Linked DNA regions of Homo sapiens: region 2 is linked to region 1. Evidence: fine-mapped expression QTL. A gene starts in region 1. The other region holds a variant in brackets. All regions are shown on one strand. Distances are from middle to middle.

Region 1 (5,380 bases):
TAGCTGACTTTGCCAGAGGGGAAAGAAATCCAACACATTATCAATCTACCCATTTCTGTGGCGCCTACCACAGTGAACCAGACACGCAGATAATACTACCAGATCTGTACAGAACCTACGAAAATATTTTATTCTTTTTTTCCAGTTTGCTGCTCTCTTCCTCCTTTTAACTAGACCATATCATGTGGATGCCTTTAAAACCTGAGAGTAAAGTCAGTTGAGAAGGTTAATCTAACTTTTCTTGCTTATTTCAGCTATGATCTGAAAGGAATGGAAGCACAAAATGATGAATAAGGTATTTTTAACAAAGATACATGGGTAAATTAACAGCAGTAATGTAAAAAAGACTGAGGGAGCAACAATGTGGAAAGGGAAGGAAAGGAAGCTGTATAGGAACAATCACACAAATAATCATCAAAATTAAACTTTATAAATCTAAACATAGTATCTACAACCTTTATGAAGGTTAAGTTTTGTTAAATTGTCTAAGTTTTGCATTTTTACAATTTTCACTGTAGAGAAAAAAATATTAATAGTTACCAAAGGAATAAAAGACTAAAATAATTTGTTATACATCTGCAAATAGCTCCTTAAATTTGGAACACTAATTTCATAATGATATTTGGATCCATAAATGTGAAACTGTCACACTGAATGTAGGTACTGTTTTCCCCACAATGGATACTACTGCATTGGCATCTAGCAGAAATTGTAAGCTATTTGGAATGTTACTAAACCTACTGGGACTAAGGTTTTCAATCTTTTGTCTTTCAAATTAAAATTAAAAACTAATTCACTCTGGGCAATTCAGGTACTCTAAGGAAATTCAAGTACTCTAGTTTTAAATACGAATTTTCAAAAACGCAACCCAAGTACCCTTTCCTCTCAACTTCTGTGAGGCCAAGCCACGACCTCCACCTATTCAATCTTTGCTGCTAGATAACAACCCTTTTGGTAGTGCTAGGCAACAGGCATGATGTGACAAACCTAGACATCAAAACTTTTCCACAGAAAGATAAGGTAAACAAGATATACTTAGCGCCACACCCATTTAAATGCACAAGCAACCAAAATTGCTCCCTCCCCCCGCAACACCCCCCCCCCCCCCCCAAAGCTCCAGCTGGTCAGGAAACATTGTCTTTACAATCAAGATAAACATCTGGCTCAGGGTGTTCAGCCATTCCTCACCTACAGGCTTGCCTAAGCCCCATTCTCCAATGCCATCACCACCAGAACCGGAACATTCTGTTGGGAAGCCGGCAAACGTCCAAATACCCCAAGTATCCTCGCCCGAGTTCTGCAACCAAAAATCTGTTTTGGCTACTGAGCATGCTCAGACTTAAGACGGGCGCGCCACATGGGAGTTTTCAAAGCTTAGGCTCCAAACTCCACGTAGTAACAGCAGCTGAAAGGAGGAGAGGGGAAAAGGGGAGGGGAAGAGACTGGAATATTAATTTGAGCCCTGATATTGAAGTATAGGACCCGGCCAGCGGCTGAATATGGTGAAGGCAAAAAGACGCTGCTTTGGCATTCTCTTTGCAGCACAGAGAAGTTTACATGAAGTAGAAGAAATCCTTGCAGTGGTGAAAACTGACATGGCAAGTGGCAGAAACCAGGTCTAACTACCAGCTGATTGCAGTAGCCGGTCACAACTGCCCAGAGTGTAATTCCCACCGATAAGCGCGGATCCTTATCTTTGAAACACAAAGCGACGGCGGCACGGATTCATCAAGCCATTGGACAGCTTCGCAGTGCAGCAGCCCAGGCTGCCCGGCCGAGCACCGCAGTCCTATCAAGGGTGTGTATCCAGGGTGGTACATCCGATGAGTTAGGAAAGCAAACCGCTCCCCAGGACAGCGCGGGGTCAGGGGGTCCCCTCCAGGGCGTCCCAGACGCCTCCCTCCAAAGTCTGGGCGGTAACAGCGGGGCTGGGACGAGGGCCAGCCCCGGCCCCGCCTCAGGACGCCCCGGGCAGCCAGCGAGGCCTCCGCAGCCGCTGGGCCGCACCGTGTCCGCCAGCCGGGACCCCGGCAGGCCAGGACTCGGCCTACCTCCCGCCCGACAGGCCCTGGGTCGTTTCCGCTCCGTCCGCGGCCGAACGCCCCCGCCTCGGCCCGAGTCCGCCGGGGCAGAGCCTGCAGCCCCCAGTTCCCCTCGCCCGCGCGCGCCGGGGACCCTCACTCACTCGCGAGCCGGCTAGGCGCGCTCTCCCGACGCCGTCGCTGCGCTTCTCCTCGCTGCAACTTTATTAGCAGCTCGGCCGCGGGACACGCGCACGGCGCCCGCTCGCCCAGGACCCGGATGAGGGAGGGAGGGAGAGGGAGCCCGGGAGGACGCCCGCTGGGGTCGGCGCATGCGCGCCAGAGGCGGAGTGACCGCTGCGGGACCGAGGGAGGGGTGTCTTGCCCGGGCGGCTGAAAGAAGCCTCCGCGCCGGGCTCCGCGCCGGCCAACGCCGACTTCCGATCAGCTGGAGGCCTTCGCGTCGATGGCCAGGCCTGGGAATGGGAATCAGATAGCTCCCACCACCACCACAGTAGGCGCTAGAAGCTTCCACTAACCAAATCAGTATACATTGTAATAAAATTAAGTAATTGTCCTTGACACAGACAACTGGAGGTTTTCTGTCACATACAAAGTGTAAACAAAAACATCTTCAGATACGACTTAGCTACTTTTATTGATCTGTAATACAAATCTGAATGAAGAGTCTTCTTTCTGTGCAAAGTAGCTTCAAAACATGTTTCTGAGCATCTTACAGCTTCTTACTAGATGCAGCACTAAAACCCCTCCCACGGGGCAATCCTGGAACCCTTGAGGGCCTGTGGAAATGGAGCGAGTGCCCACCCTGGAGTTCCAGGAGTGGGACTGCCCATACACTGGATCGCAACCCCAGTTGTTCAAGACACATAGCCTCTCCACCTCCTTGTGGGGAGGGAGATCCCGTGGGGACCCAGCCCCTGGACAGGCGGGGCCACTGAGTTGCAGAGACACCATCCATAGGCTTATATACACCACCCCATCTCCTGGACTCTCTTTTCTAAGTAATTGGAGCTCTTCTCGATGCTTTTTCCTCCAAATTTCCAAAACCGTCAGTATTTCCTAGAATATAATATTGGTACCACATAGGGTACCCGATTTGAATAGTACTAGTAAGAAAAAGCTTTTGAATAATTTTGTTTTTATTTGAAAAGGTCAATACTGGCTCTCCAATGTTCTATTATAGGTTTTCTTTTTAAAATAAGTAAAAATCAAAATCGGGGTCATTTTGGAATGCTCTTTGACACCCTAATCCAATCCATCAGAAATTCTACTGACTCTTTCTTCAAAATTTATCCTAAATCTGACCATTTCTCACACCTCAATTGCCACCTCCATGGCCCGAGCCAGGGTCATCTCATCTGACACACAAATGGCGCAGCCACTATTTTGCTCCAGGCTCTAGAAGTTTATTTCTGTGGAGAAGAAACTAAATAAATGTCCAGAAGTCTCTGCATTAGGGGTGGCCATCTGAAATGGTGACAGAGGGCTAGTAAAGGAGTGAAGGGGAAGTGGGGGAAGAGACCAGAGAGTGAGTGTCTAGTTCCAGAGACCAAAGGGGTCACTGCTATTTCATTCCAGCCAACTGTTACCATAGGGAAATGTGGGAATAAGGACCCAGTGTTGGCAGATATTCTGATTTTTCAAGCAAAGCTGGAAATTTAGATTTTTATGTGAAAATCTCAATTATATCTGTTTAGCAACTTCTTTCTATTTTTCTCTCTCTTTGCCTGTCTCCTGCCCGCCCCCCACCCCGCTCCCTTCCTCTCACTCTGTTAGACATTCTGGAGGCCAACTACATGCAAGCCAAACAAAACAAATCCATGGTCCCGATTTAGCCTACTGGCCACCAGTTTGCAATTTCAGGTCTCCATCTTAAACTTCTTTACTACATCATAAACTTTGAGAAAGTAAAGTCTGTGTACTTTAACTCTTTGTCACACTCACTGATTATTTGTTGTTAATTCAGAAGTTTCCAGCCCTTGGAAGGCAAATATTTCTGGAGCCTGCATGGGTTTACAACTCCCAGAAGTGCATATAATCCTGCCTTGGAGGATACGTTTTTTTTTTTTCCAGAACTGATGTTTGCAGAGTGCTTTGTTGAACATTATAGGACATAACAATTTGGTTTAAATATTTTGTATAGTAGAGATACTCCTCACTTCAAACAGCCAATAAAATCCTTCCCAAAACAAATTATTTGCTGTTTTGCAGTCACTGTACATACGTCAGAAGAATTTGTGATTACAAGATTCCTTTTCATAATCACATATGTAATCTCATAGCCAACAGTTTTGCTTCCTAAGTTATGTGTCCACATACTGATCAAATCAGCCAGCAACTCCAGCCTCTCCAACTTGCTATTTGAGCTCAGTTTAGGTCTAAAGTTGGAAGAGATAACATAGAAGAGAGGAATGGAGATTTTAGTACCACACCAGCAGCCTTCCGAAGGTCTAAGAAATTACCTAGACCTCAAAGACTATGGAAAATCAGAGGGATCACTAAATATCTATACAGTCAAAAACATTATAAAACAGCAAATGAACAGGAATCCCAGAACCATAAGAATGAAGTAAGGAAGTCCCTGTTTTTGGCAATCAAATGGGATCTAAGAACAAATGTAGAACAGGATGATCTGAACAGATAGACATAGTCAGTGGGGCATCAAAATAGACAAACTGCTTTTTTCATTTAGCCATTCACCTGATCAAGAAGACCAGATAAAAGCAACTCCAATACTCAATTTTACTTTACTTGTAGAGAAACCTATTTCTGGACAATTTAGTCCTATAATTCTCAACCAGGGGTGACTGCACCCCCAGGAAACATTTGGCAATGTTTAAAGATGTTCTCGGTTGTCACAACTAGGAGGGCGGTGCTACTAGCATCTAGGCGTTGCAGGTCAGAGACACTGCTGAACATGCTACAATGCACAGAACAGCCTCCTTCTACCAAAAATTAGTCAACCCAAAATATCAGTTGTGCTGTGGTTGAGAAACCCTGATTTAAATCCCAAATAGTTTTTCTTGGGTTGGGTTGATGTTTACAGAAGAAATGATCCTTTCCTTTGAATTTTTTCAATAATCATTTATATTATCAATTTCATGTAGAGAATTAGCCTAAATGTTTAGCCCATGACCTACTCCCTCCTTGAGTTTTTCAGGTCTAAGAAGGAGGCAACTTTCAGGAAAGGTGAGACAATATATGGAAGATGAAGAACTGGAATAATTTAGAAACATTTCTGTATTTTTTAATTTTAAAATGTCTAGTAATTGAGGCAAATTGTTTTTGGTTTGAAAATCATTAATAAATATCTTAATTTTGTAGTTTGCTGTAGCTCA
Region 2 (5,380 bases), 38 kb after region 1:
CTAATGAGCACCATACTACTGGGAATATAAAAGACCCCATTGTTTCCCGCCATTTATGGAGGAACATGGCTTCCTGAGGTAAATTAATTTGCGGAAGGAGTTAGAATAACCAATAGCTTTACAATGAGCGATTCCTTACGCCAGTCATGCACAGGGTGGGGCTTAGGAAATTATTTCAGCGCATGTTTTTCTTCAACTCAAGGCTTTTATGAAGAAAAACATTTCTTAAAGCTGTTATTAAGGTATTCAAGCTAGGAACTCAGACGATTCTAAAACACTCCTCTATATTCTTCCTCATCTTCTTGGAATGTCTTTGGAAGAGAGAATTGTTAGGGTCCTGGAAAAAGAAAACCAACAGATCAGGTGGTTGAATATGGCTTCCTGGTGGGGCAGACAGTTCAAAGGATACCTTGAGGCATCTGGCAGTGCACAAGAAAGGGCAAAGCTTCCAGAGAGTAGCAAGTCACTGAAGACAGAATTCTGTTATAGAGAAAAACTGTGTGTGTGTGTGTGTGTGTTTGTGAAGCTTTTTTAATGAACTAGTTTGTTTTTGTTTTTGAGACAGTCTCACTCTGCCACCCAGGCTGGAGTGCAGTGGCGCGATCTCAGCTCACTGCAGCCTTGGCCTCCTGGGTTCAAGCCATTCTCCTGCTGCAGCCTCCTGAGCAGCTGAGATTACAGACACGCACCAGCATGCGCGGCTAATTTTTGTGCTTTTGGTAGAGACAGGGTTTCGCAATGATGGCCAGGCTGGTCTCAAACTCCTGACCTCGAGTGATCCACCCGCCTTGGCCTCCCTCCCAAAGTGCTGGGATTACAGGGGTTAGCCACTGCACCTGGCCTGAACTAGTATGTTTTTTGTATTATGAAAGTGATTCATCCTCAGGGTAAAATTCAAATAGTGCGGAAGGCACAAGGTGATTTAAGTTTTATTACAGTCAGAAAATCTATCTCTCTACCACTGCCCCCCAACTACACACACACACACACACAGACACACACACACATACATACACATATTCAATGTTTATCTTCAAATTAGGTCATTTATGAAAAAATGGAGAAAAATGCTTCTATAAGATATTCACACTGTTAACTGTAAGCAGTTTTCAAAAGTTACCATCAAGCTTACTCTCCTTTTCTTTGAATACTTTTGGAAGAGACACAATTTTCCAAACTGTGTTTGCCAAAACACAGTTCAGGCAATAGAATAGATGAAATTTTTACAAACAGGACAGTGAAAGCCTGGCACATAGTAGACACTCAGGAAATATGTATTGAAATATCTGTTGGCGAAATAAAACTATAATGCTCCTTTGCGATATGGTTTTCTCTCTTAACAATATATTTTGGGCCTCATTCCCTATTAGTTACTAGAAATCGGTAGCATCATTGTTAATCGCTGCTTTGTATTACCTTGTAGGGGTGCACTGTAATTTATTTAACTTCATTGATGGGCATTTAGGTGCATCCAATTTATTTTCTGTCACGACCAAAGCCACAAAGAACATCATTTTGTGTTACTTTTGCACATGAGTGTAAGTCCTTTTGTAGGATAAACAACTACGAGGGAAAAGACTGGGTCAAAGGGCTTACGCAGGGTAGAATTTCAGGATAATCCACTTCTTCAAAAACTTTAAGTGGGAAGTGAGAATAAGATCAGGAACTCTTCTGCCTTGTCCTTTTATTCCAAGTACTCTTGACTACTCAACAGGGCTTCACCAACTGTGTTAGTTTGAGCAAATCTAAGAGCAGACCCTAAGGCAAGTATTCAAGTGCCAGTAGCTTAGTTGGCAGGAGATCTGCAGGCCTACAAGTAGGGGTGTGCAGAAGTGAGACAGGTAAGAAAGGGTGTCTTATCATGCCACTTCTCACTGTGGACAGCTGGGACTAATCTTGCTGGGAAACAATGTAGTACACACCCCAGAGTTACCCCAGCTGTGGGACACGGAAGCTATGGTATTCATTCATCATGGCCATATCGAATTGTTGGATGAGAACTGAATCAAGGGGCATCAGGTATCTGGCTCTTCCTGCTTGTCCCGGGGAGAGGTCAAGTGTGCTTCTGCAGCTGGCAGAGAGCTGCAGGTGTTGGAAAGAATCACCTCTGCTGGTAGGGGTGAGTGCAGAGAGGATGAGCAGGGCAGCGACAACCTCTGCCTCGTCATCTTTTGGGATGTATCACAATCTCCAGCAGAATCGAAGGCTGCTACTTAGTGATAGAAATCAGAAGTCTACTGA[C/T]GTTTGCCTAGATAACACATGCCAATTTTTAGCTGCCCAGAATATAAAACCCCCTTCTTTGGGGGAGACTTCTTTATTCTGCATGTCTTTGAGAGAGACTGAGCCCCCTTGCCACTGAGAAAGCCCAAATGGGGAATAATTATACTCTGCCTGCTGCATATGAGGCCAGGCAGTGGCACAAAGATTCAGGTACAGTCAGTGACTATTTATGGTGGCAGTAGCCAAGTTCAAAGTCCAGCAGCAGCACGGTGAGTGTCTGGGAACAGCAGAACAGGCAACATGTCATAATCAGACTGTTTTCATAGTGGAGTTCCCTACCATCCCACCTCCATTAGTTCCTACCCATTTTCTAAGCCTGCTTCTCTAATTTGTCCAGCCCTTCTTGGAGCTTCCCAATAACTATCAAATAAAATAACAGAGTTTATATTGTTTGCAATTAAGCAGTTTAACTATTATACTGAATCATTTCTCCTCCCCCAAAACCATTTTCTCACAGACATATCCATGCAAACAAATGATGAAATATGACATTTCATTAGAACATTAGACACCAGACTGTTGGGCAATGATTCCGGACATCAGGGGGACTCTCCATCTGTGACAGCCTAGATAAAGTCCAAAGGCTGATTGTTTGGGCTGCAGGGAGAAAATGGGGACATAAATGAGATAATGGGGAGTTTCCAACTGATCTCAGTGGAGGCAACCACTTGTAAGATATCTCTTTTTCTAATAAAGAGAGAAGCTGCCCCATGAGCCACCCAATCGTAGGCACTGCTTTCTGAGTGCTTACTAGGCACTGGAGAAAAAAACTGGATCCCCAAAAAAGAACAAAAATCAGGCCTGTATTAGACTTTTCCTCAACGATACTAAATAGCAGGAGATAATTTAACAGGAGAGGAAACTCTCAATGTTTTGGAGAAAAAAAGTTCACAGGCTATTTTAAGGAGGGAAGCCATGTCCCCAACAGGCACTGATTACACCTATGGAGGCAGTTCTAATGGAAGAACAACAAGAGGTCTCTAAAATGGAATATTTTAAGGAAGTTATGATGTAAAAACTGCAATTTTGTTTAATTAACCAAGGAACAGGAAATGAACAATTACTGATTAAAATGGAATTTGTGTTCTGGAAAATCAAATAAAGGAAACATCTCTCACCCACACACTTACAAAAGGCAAAAAATATCCACAACAACCAAAAGCAAATACACAAATAAATGCAAATAATGAGTACAAGATAAGATTCATAATAAGTAGGTCTGGGAGGTCTGATAAATAAATAACAGGAGATCCTTAAGGCAAAAGGCACAGAAGAAGAAAAATATTAAAGAAACAATGCAAGATAACTTTAAATGTAGAAAAATTTACATTTTAAGAACTAAATGGCTGCAAATCAAATTCCAAACTGCACAAAAAGCCCCAAACTCGTCATCTCCTGGTGAAATTTCTTAAATCTGAGATTAAAGAGAAAGTTCAACACTTTTCCAGGTGAAGAGAAAGTTTACTTATGAAGGAAAATGAATCAGATTGGTACGAAACTTCTCATCAACAACAGTGAAAATTAGAAGACAGTGAAACAATGATACCAGACATCCAGAAAAGAGAACTATATTCCAAGAATTGTATGTCCAGCCAAGTTATCATTCTTATGTAAAAACCATGTTTCTCGCTGTACCAGGACTTAGAAAGTACACTAGTGTTTTCTAGGTAAAAAGTACTAAGTACTCTAGGTGGGTTAAATTTAAATTACAAAATGAAGCATGCAAATTAAAGTAAGACGAGGAGTTAAAAAACATTTGGGAACATGAACACTGTAAGGTGTATGATTAAATCTCAAACCAATGATGATAATGTGACTGGGGATAGTGGTAATAGTCATTAAGTATTAAGAAAGATAGGAGGGAGTGAAAGCTTTTGAATGATGTTTACATAGAGGAGTGCCAACAAAAGTTTCATTTAGGACATTACTGATTACAGGAATATAGGTTTAAGCTTCTTTGGAAAAATTAAATATTAATACTATTGGAATTAAATTCTCCTACCAAATGACTACTTTAAAAAAAGGAACTATTTGAGACCAGCCTGGCCAACATGGTGAAACCCTGTCTCTACTAAAAATACAAAAATTAGCCCAGGCATGGTTGTGCACGCCTGTAATCCCAGCTACTCAGGAGTGTGAGGCAGGAAAATTGCTTGAACTTGGGAGGTGGAGGTTGTAGTGAGCCAAGATTGTGCCACTGCACTCCAGCCTGGGCACCAGAGTGAGACTCCATCTCAAAAAAGAAAAAAAAAAAAGGAATAAACCAAGAAAATATGTATATGTCTGTGTGTATGTGTGTGTGTGTATGTGCGTGTGTATAACTGATAGGATGTACAGAAAAATATTAACAAGAAATGGTAGAATTATGGGTAATTTATTTCTTCTTTTTTACTTATAAAAATAATAGAACAGGCCGGGCGCGGTGGCTCAAGCCTGTAATCCCAGCACTTTGGGAGGCTGAGGCGGGTGGATCACTTGAGATCACGAGTTTGAGACCAGCCTGGCCAACATGGTGAAACCCTGTCTCTACTAAAAATACAAAAATTAGCCCAGGCAACCTGTAATCCAAGCTACTTGGGAGGCTGAGGCAGGAGGATTGCTTGAACCTGGGAGGTGGAGGTTGTAGTGAGCTGAGATTGCACCACTGCACTCCAGCCTGGGCACCAGAGGTAGACTCCATCTCAGAAAAAAACAAAAGGAACAAACCAATAAAATATGTGTATGTCTGTGTGTGTGTGTGTGTGTGTGTGTGTATAACTGATAGGATGTAGAGAAAAATATTAACAATAAATGGTAGAATTATGGGTAATTTATTTCTTTTTTTTACTTATAAAAATAATAGAACAGGCCGGGCACAGTGGCTCAAGCCTGTAATCCCAGCACTTTGGGAGGCTGAGGCGGGTGGGATCACTTGAGATCACGAGTTTGAGACCAGCCTGGCCAACACGGTGAAACCCCATCTCTACTAAAAATACAAAAATTAGCCAGGCACGATGGCAGGTGCTTGTAATCCCAGCTACTCAGGAGGCTGAGGCACGAGAATCGCTTGAACCCAGGAGGCAGAGGTTGCAGTGAGCTGAGATCGTGCCACTGCACTCCA

Direction of the effects. Positions count from the first base shown, and alleles are read on the strand shown. Sizes are in standard deviations (SD) of each study's normalised expression.
For the expression in tibial artery of the gene that starts at base 2,303 in region 1, C is the low allele of the variant in region 2 and T is the other (small effect, 0.28 SD a copy in GTEx).

The links. PIP is the estimated chance that this variant, and not a neighbour inherited with it, causes the effect.
Region 2: its variant is the best candidate, but not a certain one, in a credible set for the expression of SMAD5 in tibial artery (GTEx, PIP 0.76).

What each region holds. Positions count from the first base shown.
Region 1 is chr5:136,129,768-136,135,147 of GRCh38, reverse strand. It overlaps SMAD5 (SMAD family member 5), which reads right to left and starts at 2,303. Exons shown (of 8, transcript NM_005903.7): 1 at 2,186-2,303. It overlaps SMAD5-AS1 (SMAD5 antisense RNA 1), which reads left to right and starts at 258. Exons shown (of 2, transcript NR_026763.1): 1 at 258-1,798; 2 at 5,367-5,380. RefSeq lists a silencer at 1,950-2,589 and enhancers at 2,900-2,949, 2,980-3,039.
Region 2 is chr5:136,091,841-136,097,220 of GRCh38, reverse strand. No RefSeq gene overlaps it. Among named protein-coding and RNA genes, the nearest start is that of SMAD5, 38 kb to the left of the region's middle. The variant C/T (reference allele first, on the strand shown) is at 2,242.